Regions from separate parts of the Homo sapiens genome. Here regions 1 and 2 are each reported to be linked to region 3. The links are microRNA targets in miRTarBase. Many come from high-throughput screens and were not tested one by one. Region 3 holds a microRNA gene; each other region holds the end of a gene's coding sequence.
Evidence for each region. Region 3 holds the annotated microRNA hsa-miR-210-5p (AGCCCCUGCCCACCGCACACUG, at 4,561-4,582, shown strand). A microRNA usually pairs through its seed, bases 2 to 8, with sites in the 3' UTR of a target mRNA and lowers its output. Matches are read on the target gene's strand: a 7mer-m8 pairs with bases 2 to 8, a 7mer-A1 pairs with bases 2 to 7 and ends in A, and an 8mer does both.

Region 1 (7,284 bases), not on the chromosome of region 3:
TTAGCCTCCTGAGTAGCTGAGATTATAGGTGCGCACCACCACGCCTGGCTAATTTTTGTATTTTTAGTAGAGATGGGGTTTCACCATGTTGGCCAGGCAGGTCTCAAACTCCTGACCTTGTGATCCACCTGCTTGGCCTCCCAAAGTGCTGGGAGTACAGGCATGAGCCACCGCGCCCGGCCCAAAAGCCCCTTATAAGACCGTCAGATCTTGTGAGAACTCACTCACTATCACGAGAACAAGATGGGGGAAACTGCCCCCATGATGCAATTATCTCCACCTGGTCCCTCCCGCGACATGTGGGGATTATGGGAACTACAATTCAAGATCGAGATTTGGGTGGAGACACAGCCAAATCATCACATTTATTATTTTAAAACTGCCATTTATTAAGTGTTTATTATGTGCCAGGTACTTTACATTGACCTTATTTAACCCTTATGTGGTGACGCAGACAGGACTTATTAGGTTAACTGAGGTTCGTGGCCATCCAGTGACATAATGGCAGAGCCACTCAGGTCTCTCAATATAAACACAAATCTGTTTTCTTTTATTCTTAAGCATTTCCACCCTTGAGGAGGAGAAGGGAGGGGAGCAGGGTACAAGTCACAGAGAACCTTTGTGATAAGTAGACCTATTAGGGTGGAACAAGGACTCAGTTTTGGTTCCCAAAATGGGAAGGAAACGTCTGTCTTCGGGGTTATAAGACCTTTGTTAGTGGTAAGGCCAGTCTGGAGCATGGTCTGAGTCTTAGTTCAGGATCCTCTGGACCTTGAAGAGAATGAGGTGATCCCCAGAAGGATCTGGGCCTTCTGAGCTGAGACGTCGCAGCATACTGCATGCCACATTCCACATTTCTGAGCAAGAGATCCCTTCTTGGAAGGGAAGCAGAAATGAGGTTGGATAAAAGCCTGGCCTTTTGGGGCAGGTAGACCTAAATTTTGTCTTTATCGGTTACCAGCTATGAGACCCTGGGGAAGTTACTTTTTTGTGCTTCAGTTTCCTCATCTATAAAATCAGATGTCCATGGGTCCACATCAAAGGGTGATGCTGACCCCATGAGAGAGTGTGCATAAAACAGCACAAGGCTTGGCATGAAGAAACGCTTAATAACTTATAATTTATTTTTAAGGTTAAACCCATTCATTTTCTATATTTGGAGGTAGAAAGTAGGAAGTGTCTAGACGGGCCTGGCAAGGAAGAGGGCGTAGATAGTGCTTCTGATCACCTGTGACTCCTTCCTCTGTTGCAGCCCCCCATGGGTGAGGAGGGCAACCACAAGCGACACTCAGTGGTAGCAGGAGGTGGCGGCGGTGAGGGCAGGAAGCGGTGCCCCTCCCAGTCTTCCAGCAGGCCTGCTGCCATGATCAGCCAACCCCCTACACCACCCACCGGCCAGCCTGTCCGGGAAGATGCCAAATGGACAAGCCAGCACTCGAACACACAGACTTTGGGAAAGTGAAAAGCTCCTTAGCCCTGGGGCTTGAGGGGGGAAAGGGGTAGGGTGGGTAAGAGTCCATGGGGGTGCCCAGTCCCAGGAAAGGGGACAATGAAGGGACAGGCCTGGAGTTACTAGGACAGGCCTTTGTGCTGAGTAGCAATGTATACACCATTTGGGCTATCAGAGGTACCCCTGGGCAGGAGCCTCTACATCCCCTTCCCCCTCCTCTCTCCATGACTCTTGACATCCTAGCTTCTTCTAAGGGGGGAGGGAAAGGGGGGAGATTTTTATATATATATACATATATATATATCAAGTTTTAAATTATTGATAGTTCATCTGGATTACCAAAATCACTCTGCAGCCCTGCCCGAGGCTAGTAGGCTGCAACCCTGGTCCCCACCCCTAACCTCCTGCTCCCCCTCAAGCCAACTATGCAGCCCACAAGAAGGCCCTGCGGGCCCCCCCATTGCCCAGCACTGTCTCATAGAAGGCTCTGGTGGTACCTCTGGGCCCCAGGAGCATCAGCCCCTTGATCATCTGGGGTTTGTCATCACCATATTTTCTCCCTGCTGTTCCCACCATGCCCTTCTGCCATCTTCTGGGAGAAGGAAACCAAAGGATCTAAAACTGGGGTTTGGGGGAAGGTTTCAGCCTCTCCCCACTCCCCTTGCCCCACACCCTTTACTCCCCAGCCCAGAGAGACGCTGCTTTTACCAGGAAAGACTATTGAAAGATGTTTTATTTTATTTTTCTCTGACCTTTCCATCCTTGAAAAAATGGGGAAAAAAGAAGAAAAAAGACAAAATCGACCATAAAAGACCAAAAAAAAAAAAAAAATCAGAAAACCCCCACCTAATCCACAGAAAGTAATGTCTTTCCCCTCCCCTTGGAATTTTTGTTTTGTTTTTGGAAATAATATTTTTTTAAAAGTTGCCTTATTGTGGAGCGGGAATCTGAAATACCCAAATGCCTGTTTTCCTCGGTGGAGTCAACCCGAAGAGCTCCCACCTTCTCTGGATGTGCCTGGGCTTGGACTGGCTAGAATCTTTCTCTGGACTGTTGCATGTACAGTGCCTCCATCCTGGAGGCAAGAGAGTTGGGAGTGGCTCGAATCAGAGCCGTGCCCAAGATATCCCTGCTGTTGCATCGTTTGAAGCTGACGTCCTGTGTCTGTACACTGCTGCCACTGTTGTGTCCTCGCTCTGCTTGCTGTTGCCTCACGCCAGGCCCCGTCCTGCCGTGACACCCTTCATCCTACCCTTGGAACCCCAAGGCCAAGTTGGTTCAAACTGTTGGAGAACAGAGTTGGCCTGCATCTGGAACACACTTGTCCTCAGCTTACCATCTCCTCACACCCCAGAGTGGAAAGGTGAACACCTGCAGCTGAGGCTTGGAAACGTTTCTTGTGTTGCCCTGAAAAATCTTTGAGACCTCAGGGAGGCTCTGTCTCTCTTAAAAGGTGGAGAAAGATGCCATTCTCTCCCTAAGGTCTGGTGGAGTCTCCCCATCTTGCATACCCTTCTGCAAGCCATCTATCTCTGCTCACTCTCCAATTGACCCGCCTGGGAACAAGGGATGAGGAGGAGTTGGGGGCTGGGGGGAATCCTGCCAGTTGGTGAAGCCCTGTGGCAGGAAGGTATATGTGGACATAGAGTATACCTGATTCTCTTTCTTCAGCCACTGACTGCTTGGGTTGGGCTGTGAATGATAATGGAATGGCTGGAGTCTGCTGTTGTCAGAAGGCAGGGAGGGTGATGAAGGACTGACCCACATGGACTGGGATGTGTGTCGGTTATGGGCATGACTGCACGTTCACTCTCAGTGGGATCTGGGCAACATGGAGTTCATTGTCCTGTTGCTTACTTACTGCAATGTCTTTGGCCCTCCTTTTCAACTGGTTCCTCTGTTGGGCCCAAAGGTTGGGAGTAGGAGACAGTATCCCAGGCTGACAAGGGCTTGCCCTTTACCTTGGGCACCTTGTTAATTTTTAGCCTGTGCCCTTCCCCACCTTTGCCCTCCCAGTGGTTGGTATGTGGGAAGCCCATCTCAGTTCCTGTGACTTCATGTCTCAAACCAAGGATGAGCGTCTGGTCTCTGCTATGATGGTGGTATCCGAGGCCTTTCCCTGCCCAGTCTGGTGCCTGCCCCACATTGTACCGGACACTGGATTCCTGGACCCCCTTCTCCTTTCCTTTCTTTCCTTCAGGTCACGCAGCCCTGTACTGTATCCAGCACCACAGAAACCTCAGTGTTTTTCCTCTGCTGGTTTGGGGCACAAGGAAGCCTTAGGGTATGGGGAAAGGCTGTTATTACCTAGAGTTTACTCCCAGGCCAGGGGGCTGCCATCTTCTTCACAGACATCCCTGAAAGGAAGCCCCTTTGGGGCAGGGAGGTGAGGACTTCATCTCAACATCGGCTGGTGGTTGGTAGGGGAGCTTTTTCTTTTCTTTCCTTTTTTTTTGTTTTTGTTTTTGTTTTTGTTTTTGGTAACATGTTAGGAGTTAATGTTGCAAAGAGTAGTTTACATCTTCACTTTCTGAAGACACTTGAATTTAGGACCGATGTATCTGTGACAAGCATGCCAGAAGTGGCAGGGGCCATCAGGGCTAACCACTTCACACCTACCATCGTCCCATGGGGATCCAAGACCTGAGATAAAGCAACAGCCTGCCCAGATCCCTCTGTTCATCCTATCCCTTCCAAGGTTGGTCCATGCCAACATAACCTCTGGGCATCAGACATCAGCAGGTCTGTGTGCCTCAGCCCTGTTAAGGGGCAGGTTTCTCTTTAGCCCTCTTCCTGCACTTGGGAGCAAAGGCACTACCAGTAGAGAAGGGCCATCCAGCCGTGCCCCAGCCTGGACCCCTGGGGCTCAGATAGAGGTGCTGAGCCCCTGTGTCAAAGTTGTTAAATGTTTTTGTTTTGTTCCATTGTAGCTCTTTTTTTTTTTTTTTCCCCTTTCCTGGTGATTGATTTTACAAAAGAAAGTAAGCTGCTTAGAAGGCCCTGGAAGGGAAGTGAGGAGGAGGGACAAGGAAGATGACTAGTTACGGAGGGTGAGGGTTGTTTTTTGCCAAAAAGCCTGGGTAGAGTGATCTGAATTATCTGGCACCCTCCTGAATGGAACCCCAGAGTACCTCCTGTGTGGAAGGGTCCCTGGATTTTCCCTAACACCCACCCTCTCCCCCTTCAGCCATGCTGATGGCAGAGAAGATAAGAACTTGGAGCCCATTTCTCACTGGAGAGGAAAACTTGTCATCTGGCTTTGCGGAGAAGGTTCCACCTTACGCTCGTAGTACATTATCTTTACTATGTGCTAGGATATCATATTTAAAAGGACAAAAAAATGTAAAATACTTGAATGAGCTTGTATTATAACATTAATATTATTGAGAGTATCTGCTTTCCAGGCTGAAGTGATTCATTCATTATTCTAGTCCTGCTTTAGTCCTTTGTAATTTGTGGTAATTATGCTTTTCTTTTTAATACAAAAAAATGTATAAAAATAAACACTTGAAAAGGCAAAATACTGGCTGGTCTTCCATCTAGGTTACTGCTATTGGGTGTGAAGGATGGGTTTCTGGTAGAGTTCCCCCAGATCCGGAGGAACCCTGCACTCAATGTGCACATGAAACCTCGGCAGGGGTTCTGCCATTGGGCTTCGAGGAGTCTGCCTAAGGCAGGGGCTTCTACAAGCCTTGAGTTCATGTCCACCCTGTGTCTTAAGTGAGACGTGACAGTCATAGCCAGTGCCACAAAACAGCAGTCCAGCATAATGCCAGGATTTCAGCGCACTTGTCAGCTTCCAGGTTTTCCATCCCCTGGCTGTGGCCTGCATTGTGTTATGAGACAGCCAAGAAGAAAAACGATGAGGCTTCTTATGGAGGGTTGCCACAACCCCTCTATGAACAGACTTTTCCACAGGGGGGTGAAGGAGGAATGATCCAGCACCATGTGGACTTACGGAATCCTGGTCAGCCCCGAACCCTGAGATGTGATGCTGGGGAGGGATGGAACAAAGAGTCCCCCATTCCCCGTATAAATTACAAAACTAAAAATGGGGCATGGCCTTATTTACGTGTTCATCTGACAACTGTCTCCCATACCTGGCTTGGGTAAATGGTTTTTCCAGAGAGTGCTTTTTCACTGTTCTTGAGGTTGGCAGGTACTTCAGTACCACCAGTGACCTCCACAGGCCAAAGGAAAGTTTAGGAGATAGTGTCCAGGGCTGATGCAGACGGATTGGTACTTTGAAAACAGAAAGATGAATTAATTGAAACTTACTTTCACAAATTATCGTTAGGAATGCTCACAGCAGCTTAATTTCACAGCCTGAGCTTCCAAATGCTATGTCTGAAGTATTAGAAGTCTTGTAGTAGACACCTCCCTTCAAAAAAAAATTATCCACTGGAATTCATGAAGACCAGTTTATTTTACATGCTTGCTTTCACATTCTTTACTGGGAATTTAAGGCCTTTTTTCAGCCTTAACTTGTATACCAACCTCAAGGATTTTGTTTGATACAGAAAAGGATAGGGCTGGGCCCTTCTGCCAAGGACTGATAACCTGCCTGCCAAAAGGAAGAGGGAATGAAAGCCTTTTGTCCTTCTAGGCCCCTTACAGTACCTCAAAATCTAAAGGCCTTAAAGGGGAAAAAAACCGTATCTGTTCTTTCTCCTTATCTCCTACCCTTCTCTTTAAGCATATTGAAGATGGACTTTTTTCCAAATGTTTATTTGTAGGAAGAGGTGATGAGTGCAGGCCAGCAGCTGAGAACTTACAGCTTTGATGCACCAGGAACTGTATTCAAGCTGAGGGCAAAAGCCTCCTAGGGAGGGAGCCAGGTCCACCAAGGCCAGAGACAGACAGGCGAGACTGTGGAAGGCCAGGGAGATGCTGCCTGGTAAGTGCTCAGCTGGCCTACTGGGCAAGTCCTCTGGGGTTCTAGAGCTGATAGGAAGAAGGAGTCCATTTTGATAGTCCTGCCTGGAGACTTGGACCTAGCTGATACTAAGGTATTTTATAAAGCTACAGTGGATGTTTTTCTTAAGAGAACTGAAAGTTGGAAAAGGCACAAGTATATATAAGAATTTAGTAAAATGATAATGGTGGTCTTTCAAATCAAAGAGTGATCTTTAAATTGTTCTTGGGAACCACAGGGTTCCTGGCCATGTCTGGCGGCTGAGAGGAGGCCAGGATGGGGACTTCAACCCAAGCAGCTGTGGTTTTGCCTTTGATAAGGTTCCTGGTAAAAATCATCTTGAATAAATGTTGCTGAGAAACTGGTAAAGCATTCGGGGGAGAAAGGATTTTGCTCTTTGCTCTGCCATGTTTTTCCGGGCTCTTTCTTCGGGGAGAAAGAGGGCTCTAACCTTTGGTCCTCATTCAGATAGGCTAATTAGGGGTCTCGGGTGTCCCCAAAGGGCAGCAACTTTGACCCCTCCCCTTGTGGGTAAAAGGGCTTTTCACAGTTTCCCAGCAGTTGGTTTTTGGTTTCCACATAAGGCTAAAGGTGTTAAAGTTTGGTCTGCACCTCGTTGGTTTTAATCCAGGGAGGAGCTCCTGGATTTCTTTTTCTCCCCCACAGAGGGAAACCTTTTGTTTGCGGTGGGCCAGAGTTAAAACGGGGCCTTTACCACTCACTCAGAGTGTTTGGTGTGTGTATGTTTGTGTGTGTGTTGGGTGAAGTGGCGACTGGCATCTGGTATGTCATGAATTGAGACCTATAATGATTTGCCAGGGTGTCTTGGCTCTGGCCTGAGTCGGGTATGTGAAAGCCTTTTGGGGCAGGAAGGGGCAAAGTGATACCTGGCCGTCCCACCCTCTGGTCCCAGAAGGAG
Region 2 (7,000 bases), not on the chromosome of region 3:
TATGATTTTGTTATTGAGCTACCTGGGAATGCTCTAGAAACTCCACATGTGGCTGACTACCAACCTTGTTATCAGACAGAAGCTTTGGCCAGTTCCCTGTCCTGCAGAAGCTTTCAGGGAGTCTAGAGGCAGAAAGTAGCTGGATCCTCACATTCCCCTTCTCCCTAGGTTCAGTACCAGAAGTGTCTTGTGGCCTCTGCAGCTCGAGGCAAGGCCTGGGGTGCCCAGGCCCGTGCCCGCCTGCGGCTCAAGCGGACCAGCTCCATGGATTCCCCAGGAGGTCCCCTGCCCCTCCCCCTGCTCAAAGGAGGGGTTGGCGGTGCAGGGGCAACCCCTCGAAAGCGGGGTGTCTTCTCTTTTCTTGATGCCTTCCGGCTGAAACCCTCTCTGCTCCATATGCCCTAAACTTATCTGGGAAGGCTGGGGAAGTAGGCTCTGGGTCCATGCCTAACTCTGTACCGTTTTATTCCTCAAGGCCTATAGCCTGTCACTCCTTGAAGCCTTCTCTGCCTGTCCCTCCGATCCTTGTCCACCGTCTATTTATTGCCCAATTTATTGTTTATACGGATGACTGGGAGGCACTGCACCACAACGTAGGACCCTGGCTCCCCTTTCCTTGGGTCCTTGTGTTCCTTGCCCCTGTCCAACCCTGGACAGTTGGCTCTACCTCAGTAACACTTTATAGCAAAATCAGTGCAAATAAAAATCCCTCAGTGACCTCACTGGATGTGAGTATATTGGGCCTGGGACAGGGCTGGGGGCTAACACCCTGTGTGAGATGAGTGTCTTTGTGTCTGTGCTTGATGTTGGTGGCTCTCTGTAGTCACATGACAGCATGGGTGTGATGGAGATCTGACTTCATTCAACAAACATATTTTCTAAGGAGTTCCCTGTGCCAGGCACTAAGCTGGGCACTGGGAATGTAATAAAATAGTCAAGGTCCCACCTTCTAAGACTGTCCGACAGGGAAACGAACAAGAGTCAAATAAGGCAGAAGATGTGATGTAATACACCTACGAAATCTCAGAGGGTTGTAGGGTCGTGGGAGCTCAAGTGAGACACTTAACCTGGCCTGAGACATTCCAGAAGGCCTCCTGAAGAACTGACATCTGAACTGAGAACTGAAGGAAGATGAGTACTAGTGAGGCTACCGGACGTGAATGTGGAGATTGTGCAGGGCAATGCAAGAGGAGGCTGTAGAAGTCAACCTGGCTAGATCACAGCGGGGTGTATGTGGGGCAGGAGCTTCTTTGTTTGAATTTGCTCCTGAGAGGATGAGGCCTCCTAGAGCACTGGCTCCTGGACAGCAACCTCCTTTGGTGCCTTGTGACCAGGGCCCTGATGGTTCATTAGATGGAGCCTTCGAGTCTTAGGGAGTTGCCGCAGGGTCCCCACAGCGGCTCCCGACGGTTGTGAACCAGCATCCATCCTCCACGGATTCCGGCAACCCGCCTGGCCCTGGACGTGTCTCAACTGGCCCGCGTGAGGGGCCGCCCCGGAAATGACGCGCTGCCCCGCTGGCCAAGCGGAAGTGGAGATGGCGGAGCTGTACGTGAAGCCGGGTGAGCGCAGCCGGCGGGCTAGGGCACTAGGTTGTCGCCCCGGCCTAGGCTGGGGGCGGTTGCGGCGCTTAGTATGGACCCTCTGTCTCCCCCAGCCCCAGTATAAGCTAACAGTGGAGTTCCGGGCTCGCTTCACACATCCCTCGCCTCCGCAGGCAACAAGGAACGCGGCTGGAACGACCCGCCGCAGTTCTCATACGGGCTGCAGACCCAGGCCGGCGGACCCAGGCGCTCGCTGCTTACCAAGAGGGTCGCCGCACCCCAGGATGGATCCCCCAGAGGTGCGTGGGGCCCCTGTGCTCGGAGACAGACGGAGAATGGGGGGGGGGGGGTGTAAGGCATAAGCCTGTTTGGAAGGCTTTTTTCTCTCCCCGAGGGCTCCTTAAGGAGAGAAGTTTTGGGGCTCCAGTAAGGGTCTCAGAGCAGGTGCTTTTCCGAGCCCCTTCTCTGCTGCTCAGGTTAATAAATGGTGTATTGATTTAAAAAGACTATTTTTTCATCCTAGATGATCTTATCCAGACCTGTGGCTTTTAATATAGTTTTAATCCTGAAGTTATTTTTCTTTGTTAACCTATACCTCTTGCCAGAACCGTATAGTGGCATATTCATTTGTCCATTCTGTCTTCACTTAGGTATATGATAATCGTCAGACTTCACAGTTTTTCATTCATTTAATCACTGTTATTTACTGAGCACTTCTATAAGTCAGGCACTGTTTGAGGGCGAACTAGACAGCAGTGAGAAAAAAAAAAAAAAGATCTCTGCTTTCAGGAAGTCCACGTTGCAGCACTGGAGATGGGCTGAAAGATGAAATAGTGGTGAGGGTGCTACAGAAAATAAGCGGTGATGTAATATGACTGGGTAACGAGGTGTCTGAGGGGCTGACATTTAAGCCACACAAAGATCATGTACAAAAGCATTCCAAGCAAAAGAAACAGCTGCAAAAGGAATAAGTTTGGCCAATTCAGAGACTGATGAAATACAGAGTGGCTGGCTACAGCATAGTGGGCTTTGTAAAGCAGGATGAGGAATTTGTATTTTAATCTACATAAAGTTAGAAGCCATTGAAAAGTTTAAAGTAGAGGAGAGCCACCTTTCCCCCCGAGAATTTTCCAAGCCATTAAATGGGCTGTGCCGTGGCCCCCATAAAGGGGCTCAGGTTTGGTTCTTTCAGTGGCCCTCCATTCTCCACACCCTTTTTGCTGTAGAAGAATGATACAAGGCTTGGTTTCTTAAACTCAGCAGTATTGATAGGTTGTGGCCAGATAATTCTTTGTGAGGGACTTTCCTGTGTCTTATGTTAATCAGCAACTCTGACTTCTACCCAAAAGATGTCAGTAGCATCCACCCAGTTGTGATAGCCAAAAGTGTTTCCAGACATTTGCCCTGTGGGCACTATCTTCCTAGCTTGAGAACCAGGGACTGATTTACATTTTGGAAAGATCACTGTGTCTGCTGTGTGAAAACAAGATTTTAGGGAAGTGGAAAGACAAATTACAGCTATTATGGTAATATAGGCAAGATTTAATGATTTGCATAAGGGTGGGAGTCAGGGTGGTAGGAGTTGGATGGATATGAGATGGAGAAGGTCAGTAGGAATGAGTAGATTAGGAAGAATCCATATAACTGAATTTTTTTGCTTGATATAGGAAGACTGGGGATGGTGGTTTTGGGGAGGGGGAGTTTTTTTGGGGGGCCATGTGAAGTTTAGGCTGTTACTTTTGGGGAATGTTCTAGGCCAGAATTAGAGAAATAAGTCACCATTACAAGGATGGTATTTGATGTCATGGGCTTGAATATGGCCAGGGACAGAGCCGTAGGGCACTCTAGCATTTCAAGGTTGAGAAGGAATCAGCAAAGGAGATTGGGAAATGGCCAAAGAAGAAAAAAGGAGAGGCCAGGCGCAGTGAGTCACGGCTGTAATCCCAGCACATGGGGAGGCCAAGGTGGGCAGATCACCTGAGATCAGAAGTTCAAGACCAGCCTGGCCAACATGGCGAAACGCTGTCTCTACTAAAAATACAAAAATTAGCTGGGCCTGTAATACCAGCTACTTGGGAGGGTGAGACAGGAGAATCGCTTGAACCTGGGAGGCGGAGGTTGCAGTGAGCCGACATCGCACCACTGCACTCCAGCCTGGGCGACAGAGTGATATTCTGTGACAAAACCAAAATAAAAAAAGAAAATAGGAGAGCGTAAAGACATGAATCAATAGTAATGAATGCTGCTGAGACATCAAGATAGAGACAAGGGGCCAGGCGCAGTGGCTCACGCCTGTAATTCCAGCACTTTGGAGGCCAAGGCGGGTGGATCACGAGGTCAGGAGTTCAAGACCAGCCTGGCCAACGTGGTAAAACCCTGTCTCTACTAAAAATACAAAAAATAGCCAGGTGTAGTGGCGGGCACCTGAAATCCCAGCTACTCGGGAGGCTGAGGCAGGAGAATCATTTGAACCTGGGAGGTGGAGCCTGCAGTGAGCCGAGATCGCACCATTGCACTCCAGCCTGGGACTCCATCTCAATAAAAAAAAAAAGAGCGACAAGGAACCAGTAGATTTGACAAACATAGCAGTCACTCGTGATCATAACAAGAGCAAGTCTCTGCAGTAGTGAGAACAGAAACAGCTGGAATGGGCTGAGGAGAGAATGTGAAAAGTAGAGAGAGTGACTATAAAGAGCTCACTCAAATGCTGCTGCAGAGATAAGAAATGGGACAGTATCTGAAAATGGAACATGAAGTAAGGGAGTGTTTTGATAGTAATATACTAGAGCATGTTTGTACACTAACGGGATGATTCAGTAGAGAGGGGGAGCTGATGATGCAAGAGAAGATAGTTACAGTAGGGAAGTCTAGAGAAGACAAGAGAGGCTAGGATGCAGAGTACAGCTGGTAAGATGGCTTTTGATAGGAGCAGGAACCTTTTCATCTATTACAAGAGGAAGAAAAGTGGCCACAGATGCAGGTGGGTTAGGAGGAATGGTGGTGGGAAGATGAGAGAGTTCTGTTTAATGACCTCTACTTTTCAATGAAACATTAGGCAGTGTCAGAAGAAGATAGCAAGGAAAGGAAGAGAAGTTCTGAAGAGTGGAAAAAATGAGCCAAAATGTCCAGGCAGTATTTGGTACCTTTTAAAATCTGTGGCCATGAATTTAAACTATCAGCATGGCTCTGTTTTCCCTCCCAAGTGCAAGCAAGTTGGGTTTAACCAGGAAAGTGGGACAATGGGAGGAGATAAAGGAGGTAAAAATATTTATAAGGGGGTGATGTTAATGTACATTGAAATCAAAGTAGCTGAGCTGGAAGGGGTAAGGGGGTGATCAGATTTTGGAGGTGATAGTGTGAACAAGGCAGGGGGATGACAGGCTGATGTAGGGTGGGAAAAAATGATCACTGGAGGTGAAGAGGTCAACTGAAACACCAAATTATTAGATGAATTAATCATCCTTGTGGATGTTGGTACCTAAAAGTAAACTTTTGACTTTTGTCTTCCAGTCTTCTTTCTGTTAGTGGTTCCCATTACTAAGTCAGAAACTACGAGTCACCTTGACTTCTCTCTTCCTCACTCTCAATCCACTCCTGTTGCTACTTCCTCCTAAGTAAATCTCAGACTACTCCATTCCCCTCGTCTACTCTTTTACCCTAGTCCATGCCAGCATTATCTCTTTCCTGAACTACTCAACCTCTCAACTGGTGTTCCTGCCACCACTGTTGACCTGTTTTCATCAGTTTTTCACAGAGCATACATGTTTAAAAATAAGTCTGGTCACATCACCCCTTGCTTTTACAAACCTGCAGTGGCTTCCCAGTACCATTGACTCAAGATCAAACTCTTCCAAAGCCCCACAGGGTCTGGACCCTCTGCTTACCTCTCTAATGATAGCTCATACTACTTTCTTCAGTGGTAATAATTTTTAGCCATACAGGCCTCATTACTGTCTCTTGAACAAATCAAAAGTTTTCCTGCTTCTTGGGCACTGCTCTAACCTCGACCTAGTACATGTTCCTTCAACTCTTCATAGCTGCATCTATCTCATCCGGTAGTTCTCAATTTAATAAAAACAGCTCATTTTGTACTTTTTGCTACATACTAGTCTAGCAGCTGTCTTTTTTTTTTTTTTTTAAGAGGGTCTTAGTATGCTGCTCAGGCTGCTCTCAAACTCCTGGGCTCAAGCGATCCTCCTGCCTCTGCCTCCCAGTGTGCTGGGATTAGAGGCATGTGTCACCACACTCAGCCTGTACCTGTATTCCTAATCTTCATTGCAACCTTGTGAAATAAGTGGCATTATATTCATCCCCATTTTACAGAAGAGGAACCTAAGCTCTAGTTGAAAGTAACTTGCTGAAAGTCACATAGCAAGTGAGCTCAGATAAACTTAAATGTACCTCAGAAGGCCTTCCTTGAACACTTAGTCTAGATAGGTTCTCCCATTTCTCTTTATTGCATAAACCATTTTATTTCTTGGTAGCATGTAACATAATTTAGTAATTTTGTGTTTTTTTCCCTGCCTCTAGAATTAAGCTCTCTGAGGTCAGGAACTTAATCTGTCTGGTTTACTTCCTCCTGAGTAGCCAGGACTATAGGTGTGTGCCACCACACTTGACTAACTTTTAAAATTTTTTTATAGAGATGAGGTCTCACTATATTGCGTAGGCTGGTTTTGAACTCCTGAGCTCAGGTGATCTTCCTACCTTGGCCTCTCAAAGTGTTAGTATTACAGGCATAAGCCACTGTGCCCAGGCCTGGTTTACTTTTCTTTTCTTTTTTTTTTTTTTTGAGACAGAGTTTCACTCTTGTTGCCCAGGCTGGAGTGCAATGGCACCATCTCAGCTCACCACAACCTCTGCCTCCCGGGTTCAAGCGATTCTCCTGCCTCAGCCTCCTGAGTAGCTGGGATTACAGGCATGTGCCACCATGCCCAGCTAATTTTTGTATTTTTAGTAGAGACAGGGTTTTGCCATGTTGGCCAGGCTGGTCTTGAACTCCTGACCTCAGGTGATCTGTCTGCCTCAGCCTCCCAAAGTGCTGGGATTACAGGTGTGAGCCATCACACCCGGCCACCTGGTTTACTTTTCTAATCTTTAGTGCCTAGCATATTGTCTGGCGTAGAGTGGGGACTTCATAAATGCATATTTTTGAATGAATAAGTTGTCTCAGAGAGTAGCCCTTCTTAGAAGGGGTGAATTTAGAGTTAAGCTTCTTACCCATTTAAGCCATGTTGCTTGATCCTGCTGTACCTTTTCAGTCCCCGCATCAGAGACTTCTCCTGGGCCTCCCCCAATGGGGCCTCCACCTCCTTCAAGTAAGGCTCCCAGGTCCCCACCTGTGGGGAGTGGTCCTGCCTCTGGCGTGGAGCCCACAAGTTTCCCAGTCGAGTCTGAGGCTGTGATGGAGGATGTGCTGAGACCTTTGGAACAGGCATTGGAAGACTGCCGTGGCC
Region 3 (7,284 bases):
CGTGCCTGTAGTCCCAGCTACTCGGGAGGCTGAGGCAGGAGAATGGCGTGAACCTGGGAGGCAGATGCTGCAGTGAGCCAAGATCGCGCCACTGCACTCCAGCCTGGGCAACAGAGTGAGACTCTGTCTCAAAAATAAATAAATGAATAAATAAACGCCAGGTGCGGTGGCTCACGCCTGTAATCCCAGCACTTTGGGAGGCCGAGGCGGGCGGATCACGAGGTCAGGAGATCGAGACCATCTTGGCTAACTGTCTCTACTAAAAAAAAAAAATACAAAAAATTAGCCGGGCGAGGTGGCGGGCGCCTGTAGTCCCAGCTACTCGGGAGGCTGAGGCAGGAGAATGGCGTGAACCCCCAGGGGGCGGAGCCTGCAGTGCCGAGATCACGCCACTGCACTCCAACCTGGGCGACAGCGAGACTCCGTCTCAAAAAAATAAAAAATAAATAAACACAGACATCCACATGGAGACATGAAGGACGTCCTCAGTGAGCATAATCCTTGGTCAGTGCACAACCAACCCAGGTATGTCAGACAGCACTCAGGCTCAGGTGTGAGAAGTATCTCCAGGCAGCTGCCCAGAGCCAAACTAGGCCCAAACTGTGCATAGGTGGTACTTGAGAGCATGAGAGCAGGGGCACATACCAATACCTCCTGACTCCCACCCCCACCGCTACCCACACACCTGACATAAAATGACTCCTTACCTGCTCGCACGTGGATAGATGCCTCACACACCAGCAGGCAGACACCTCCTGTATACAACCCCCTCATCAGTACTGTCACCTCCCCCGTACACTGACGGGTCACCCCCCAACCCCCATCACCTGCTAGTGTCAGTGTGCACACATGTGCATCCTGCCCACACAGCCTCACACAGACCTGTACTCTGAGGCTCCGGCCAGATTCCTGGTCGACACTGCCGTGTGCTGCCCCTGCCCCTTGCAGACGCAAGCATGGTGTGCATGCTCCTGGTGTGCACGGGAGGATGGAGCTGGGCTGGGAGCTCCCTTGCTTCTGTCCCGCCAGGCCAGCTTATCCCGGAGGGCCTAGCCCAGCCCCTTCCCACCCCTGCCCCCCACCCCACCATCAGGTCCGTGTGCACATACAGGGCTTGGTGGGCAATGAGCCCAGTCATCGCCCCCTGCTGAGACCCATCCCACTCCCAGCAGCAGGGAGCCCCAGAGCCAGGTGGATGCCTGGGGGAGGCAGGGGCAGGGGTGGCTGGAGGAGGTGGGTGGGGAGAGAACAAAGGAGTCAAAACTCTCAGAGCTGGGGGAGGGAACAGGCAGGGCTGCATTCTCTACCTAGGGAAGGCAGGTGTCTGTGTGTCCCAGGGCTGTCATATCAAACGGCCACAAACCAGAGCCCTTAGACAACAGAAAGGCATTCTCTCAGTCTGGAAGCCAGCAGTCAGAGATCCAGGCTGGCAGGGCCACCCTCCTTGTTGAGGATCTGGGGAGGTCCTTCTTCTCCCAGCTTCATCTCCAGGCGTTCCTTGGCTATGGCTTCCTATGGCCTCCCTCTGTGTCTGTGTCTCTTTTCTCTTTCTCTCCTTTTTTTTTGAGACAGAGTTTTGCTCTGTCGCCCAGACTGGAGTGCAGTGGTGCAATCTCTGCTCACTGCAGGCTCCGCCCACCGGGTTCACGCCATTCTCCTGCCTCAGCCTCCCGAGCAGCTGGGACTACAGGCGCCCGCCACCTCGCCCGGCTAATTTTTTGTATTTTTAGTAGAGACAGGGTTTCGCTGTGTTAGCCAGGATGGTCTCGATCTCCTGACCTCGTGATCCGCCTGCCTCGGCCTCCCAAAGTGCTGGGATTACAGGCGTGAGCCACCGCGCCCAGCCTTTTTTTTTTTTTTTTTTTTGTGACGGAGTCTTGCTCTGTTGCCCAGGCTGGAGTGCAATGGCGCGATCTCGGCTCACCTCAACCTCCACCTCCCAGGTTCAAGTGATTCTCCTGTCTCAGCCTCCCGAGTAGCTGGGATTACGGGCATGCATCACCACGCCCGGCTAATTTTGTATTTTTAGTAGAGACGGGGTTTCTCCATGTTGATCAGGCTGGTCTCGAACTCCTGATCTCAGGTGATCCACCCTCCTCGGCCTCCCAAAGTGCTGGGATTACAGGCATGAGCCACCGCGCCCGGCCTTCTCTCTTTTTTTGTGTTTTTTGTTTGTCTGTTTGAGACAGAGTCGTACTCTGTTGCCCATGCTGGAGTGCAGTGGCGTGATCTCAGCTCACTGCCAACCTCCCAGGTTCAAGCGATTCTCCTGCCTCAGCCTCCCAAGTAGCTGGGATTACAAGCTCACACTACCATGCCCGGCTGATTTTTTTGTATTTTTAGTAGAGATGGGGTTTCACTATGTTGGCCAGGCTGGCCTCAAACTCCTGGCCTCAGGTGATCTGCCCACCTCGGCCTCCCAGAGTGCTGGGATTACAGGCTTGAGCCACCACACCCGGCCTGTTTTCCCTGTCTTTTATAAGGACACTGATCATTGGATTTAGGGCCCACCCAGAAAGTCCAGGATGATCTCGTTTCAAGATGTTTCCCTTAATGACATCTGCAAAGATGCTTTCTCCCGATGAGGGCACATTTAGGAAGCCTGGGTATTAGGATGTGGATATATCTTCTTTTTGGCGGAGGGACCATCCCACTCACTACAGATGCTGAGAAAAGGTGCCTGTGAAATTGGCAGGACTGGGGGCAGAAGTGGGTTCACGTCAGCAGGGCACGACAGGAACACAGAGCTGCCCTGTCCTCTTGCCCCTTCTTGTCCCCTAGTCTGACTGCCCTAGGAGCCTCTGCCCTGCCATGAAGACGTGGGCCTTCTCAGGGACCCCACTGACTCTTAGAGGCTCCTTCACGACCCACAGGATCGAGGTCTTGCTGACCCCTGACCCCCAATAGAACCGAGTGGCTCCGTGATCCTCTGGGCACCTTCCCCATCCACAGGCAGCCACAGGTGCAAGGAGCCACTCGGTTCTATCGGGGGCCAAGGGTCAAGGGGTCAGCAAGACCTCGGTCATGTCTTGCTGATCATGTCTGAGTCACCCCAGACTCTGCATCTGAATTTTTGTCCCCAGCCTTCAAGCCCCTGAGGACATGGGCTGGTTCGGAAGCTCCCTGGGGCCCCAGCACTTTGCCGCCGGGGCTGGGGCAGGGGGCAGGCTGCGGCCCAGGCCTGCGCGGATGCCGAGGCAGGGAGGTCATGGGGCCAGGGGAGGACAAAGAGCAGGGCGGTGAGTTTAGGGCCAGGGAGCTGAGGGGAGACGGCCCGGGGCCGAGGACCAGGGTGACAGTGCCAAGGGGGGCCGGCGGCCAAATCTCCTTTGGCTGCCACTTTGGAGCCCCACCCCGGAGTCCGATACTTCCACGTCTGAAGCTGGCCCTGCGAGTCCTAACGAAGGTCAAACCGTCAAGGCTCCTTTGATTTTACACGTTTTCAGCGCACAGACAGGATTCTCTCGCCTCGTCCCCTCAAAGACCGGCACAGGGCTGCGAAGACCCCTGAGCCCTTGAGGCACCCCCTCCAGGCTCCAGAGGCTTCCGCGGAGACAGAGCGCGCAGGAGGGACCCAGAGCCCCCAAGGGCGCCCCGTGGGGGTCGCCAGGCAAACCAGGCAGAGCCAGAGCCCCCTCTTCGCCAGCAGGACGGACCCGGGCGTCCTTTGGGGACCCCAAGCCGCCCGGGGGGTGGTGCGTGCGTCCCGAGGACGCCGTGTCCGGGCCCGCGCAGGCCCCACCCGGGTCACGGCCCGGGATACGTGCGCCGGGCGCCCAGCGGGTTGGGGGGGGCGGGCCCGCGGGACGCGGGTGCGGGGCACGGAGGCGGCCGGGTCGTACCACCGCGCCGCGGGAAGAGGGGCAGCTCCCGGCCGGCCCTGCCGCCCCACGCACACCCGCGGGCGGAGGACCCGTCGCCAGGCTGCGCCCCACGCCCAGCCCGGAAGCCCCGCGAGCCCGGGCCATACCACCGCGCGGCGGGAGGAGGACCACCTCGGGCCGTACCATCCGCCCGGCCGGGGGACGCGCCCTGGCCCCGCCGCGCCCTCGCAGCTGGCGCCCCGCAGGCCCCGCCCGGCAGGTGCCGCCCCTCCCCGGGCAGACGTGCAGAAAAGAACGCGCCGGCCTCGCCCGCGAAGGGCCGCGCGGCGGTGGGCGGGGCGTCGCGAACCCCCCTCGCGCCCACTGGCTGCGTTGCGGTAGGGCGGGCCCGGCTAGGCCGGCCATTGGCTGAGGGACCAGGTCATTTGCATACGGGGCTGGGCGTGGAGCCGCGGGGCCCGGGGCCGGTCGGGTCGGGCCGGGGGGCGAGAGGGTGCCAGCGGCCGCAGCTGAAGTTGGGCCGAGAGCCGGCGACGGCCCCGCGCCGGGGTCGCAGGTGACGCGCGAGGGATCCCAGGTTGGCGGGCGGGGCGCCCCTCAGAGGCCGCCCTCCCGCGGGGGCTGCGGGGGGTCGGGCTGGGCAGGCGCGGCGGGGCTCGGACGCCCAAGTTGGAGGGGACGGGGGTGGGGTCAATCCCTCCGCCCGCCCACCCGGCAGTGCCTCCAGGCGCAGGGCAGCCCCTGCCCACCGCACACTGCGCTGCCCCAGACCCACTGTGCGTGTGACAGCGGCTGATCTGTGCCTGGGCAGCGCGACCCTCCTGGCCCCGTGTCCGGGTCTGGCGGGCAGGCGAGCGGCCACACGGGGACGCGAGGGCAGCTGGATACCGTGGGGAGGGGGTGCCCTATGGACGGGGTGTGCCTGTCTGGCCAGCAGGGACGGCGGGTGGGGGTAAGCGAAATCATTCGGGGGCTTTGCTGCCCTCCGCTTGGTGGGGCTGAGGCTGGGCCAGATACCCTCTTGGAGGGAACTTTCTTTTCCTTGTGTGTCCAGGGTACCAGTGTGCGGAGTTCCTGTTGCCAAGCTGAAGGTGGCCCTGGGCAGGCACAGGTGTGGTCATATCTTCAGCCAACAGGACCATCCTCCGGAGGGCCACCTCTGGGGACTTCCTACGGGAAGAGAGTGACAGATTTGGTGCTTCTGTGTGTTTCTGCCGCTTCAGTGGGGCCGCTGCGGGAGACAGCGGGTGGATCCTCCAGCAGCCTGTCTGCTGAGCCTGCCTTCTCAAGTCTACTGTTAAAATCAGGACCGGGTCGTGTCCGAGCCTACAGGCCCTGTCTCCGCTCCCCAGGCCTGCAGGAGTTGAGGGCTGCACCTGCTCGCTGGAGAGGGAGAGGCAGATTTAGTGGACGCCTGGCATGGACTCGGACTGGCCTTTGGAAGCTCCCTGCCCTGACGGGGTTGCCTGTCACCACTGCGAAGTGAGGCTTGGCAGGACCTGCACCTGAGAAAGGCTGTGTGTGGTCTTGGGGTCCACACCTGCAGAGCTAACTTACTGCCAGACGGCGACTTACTGTGGGCCACCCTCAGTGAACCGGGGTGTCCTCAGCTGGCCCTACAGAGCACTTCTGTGCTGGGGATGAGTAGGAACTCTGGGCGAGGAGGGTCCCAGCGCCGCCCCTCGATACAGCCTGGCTCTGCCCTCTGCCCGTACTTACACCAGGTGGGATCCCTGCCCTGCATTGCCTGGGGATTGGCTGGGCTTGGGCCCGCCCTGCTGTGGAACTGGATGTTTTCAGGGAGCCCAGCCTTTCCTCATGTCAACACAGTTCACAATATAGTTTTCAAAGTACAGTTTAAAACTCAAAAGTAAACTTTTCAGCAACTCAAAGGTTTGCTGAGTGATCTGAAGCACTCTGGCCACTTTTTGGGGCCATGGGATTTGGTTCACCTGAAACAGCCAGTGAGAGGCCGGGTGTGGTGGCTCACACCCGTAATCCCAACACTTCAGGAGGCAGACGCGGGTGATCGCTCACTTGAGATCAGGAGTTCAAGACCAGCCTGGGCAACATGGTGAAACCTCGTCTCTACTAAAAATACAAAAATTAGCTAGGCATGGTGGTGGGCACCTGTAATCCCAGCTACTTGGAAGGCTGAGGCAAGAGAATCGCTTGAACCTGGGAGGTGGAGGTTGCAGCGAGACGAGATTACGCCGCTGCACTCCAGCCTGGGTGACGAGAGACTCTGCCTCAAAAAAATAAAAAAATGAAACAGCCAGTGAGGAGGAAGGCTCCCCGCCTTCCCCCCGCCGGAACATAGCCATAGCTGCTGCTGGGACACCCTCTTGGTGGGGAAGAAGGCTGGTTAGCTTCATCAGAGCCAGCAGCAGCAGACCAGGGACGGGCACCTAGGCAGTGGCCTCAGAGTGAACAGGAGTTCCTCAGAAACACACACAGGGACGGCGTGGCGCATGCTCTGCCAGCTCCATGCCTCCTTCCCATTGTGGGGCTGGGGTACGTAGGGCAGAGCTCATGACCTCCGGGAGGACATGGGGGTGGGCTCTGGATGGCACCTGGCATTGCCCCCTGCTGGCCTATGTGACGGTGTGGAGGGCTGGTCACAGAGGTACGACCATCCCTCCAGAATGTGGGTCGGGGCTGTGGATGGAGGAGTAGGCCCCTCATATCCCAGGCCTGCTGCCCAGGCACAACCCACTTGGCCTATGCATTCCAGGCTCCATCCCATGTGACTCTGGGCTTAGCCCCTTCTGGGGCCACAGGTCAGGCAGGTCCAGGCCCCAAGGACCTCCCAGTGACAGGCGACTGTGAGCTGGGCAGACAGGAGTGAAGTCAGGTGGGGGTTCTGGCTTGCTGACACCAGCGTTTGGAGCCTCCTGCTGCTGCCTGGCTTCCCTGCATTCCCTGTTCCCTGCCTCAGGCAAGAAATAACCAAGCCGAGTTGCCTCTGCACAGCAGTGAGCTCCTGGTGGCCCTGGCTTCTGGGGAGCCCTGTGGATGGCTTCCTTGCCCAAGTCCAGGCCTTCTTGTTCCCTTTGTGTGCTCCAGAGAAAGGGGGCAGCACCAGATCCAGATCCAGGGCCAACCAACAGAAAGCTGAGTCCATCCCAAACTCGCCCATTCTCAGAGCACAAAGACCCCATGATCTAGGGCAAACTTGTCCAACTGTTGGCCCATGGAACAGCTTTGAATGCAGCCCAACACAAATCTATAAATTTTCTTAAACATTGTGAGTTGTTTTTTGTTGTTATTTTGAGACAGAGTCTCGATCTGTCGCCCAGGCTGGAGTTAGTGGCCCAATCTCGGCTCACTGCAAGCTCCGCCTCCTGGGTTCACGCTCGTCTCCTGCCTCAGCCTCCCGAGTAGCTGGGACTACAGGCGCCCGCCAACACGCCTGGCTAATTTTGGTATTTTTAGTAGAGACGGGGTTTCACCACGTTAG

Region 1: the mRNA of LARP1 is a reported target of hsa-miR-210-5p. Seed matches in the 3' UTR shown: 7mer-m8 at 4,036-4,042 and 7mer-A1 at 4,216-4,222.
Region 2: miRTarBase lists APBB3 as a target of hsa-miR-210-5p. The part of its 3' UTR that is shown has no 7-base or 8-base seed match.

What each region holds. Positions count from the first base shown.
Region 1 is chr5:154,812,635-154,819,918 of GRCh38, forward strand. LARP1 (La ribonucleoprotein 1, translational regulator) reads left to right here. Exons shown (of 19, transcript NM_033551.3): 19 at 1,253-4,971. The coding sequence ends at 1,462. FAXDC2 (fatty acid hydroxylase domain containing 2) reads right to left here. Exons shown (of 9, transcript NM_032385.5): 9 at 5,858-7,284. Among named protein-coding and RNA genes, the nearest start is that of MIR378H, 13 kb to the right of the region's middle.
Region 2 is chr5:140,551,990-140,558,989 of GRCh38, reverse strand. It overlaps APBB3 (amyloid beta precursor protein binding family B member 3), which reads left to right. Exons shown (of 13, transcript NM_133173.3): 13 at 169-722. The coding sequence ends at 405. SRA1 (steroid receptor RNA activator 1) reads left to right here and starts at 1,517. Exons shown (of 5, transcript NM_001035235.4): 1 at 1,517-1,562; 2 at 1,718-1,843; 3 at 6,806-7,000. The coding sequence starts at 1,538. RefSeq lists enhancers at 1,088-1,147, 1,238-1,597, 1,463-2,284 and a silencer at 2,808-2,957.
Region 3 is chr11:565,448-572,731 of GRCh38, reverse strand. MIR210 (microRNA 210) reads left to right here and starts at 4,534; the gene lies at 4,534-4,643. It overlaps LOC124902805 (translation initiation factor IF-2-like), which reads right to left and starts at 1,138. Exons shown (of 4, transcript XM_047428004.1): 1 at 1,088-1,138. The coding sequence starts at 1,138. MIR210HG (MIR210 host gene) reads left to right here and starts at 4,275. Exons shown (of 2, transcript NR_038262.1): 1 at 4,275-4,380; 2 at 4,879-7,075. RefSeq lists enhancers at 2,593-3,343, 5,929-6,483, 6,484-7,038.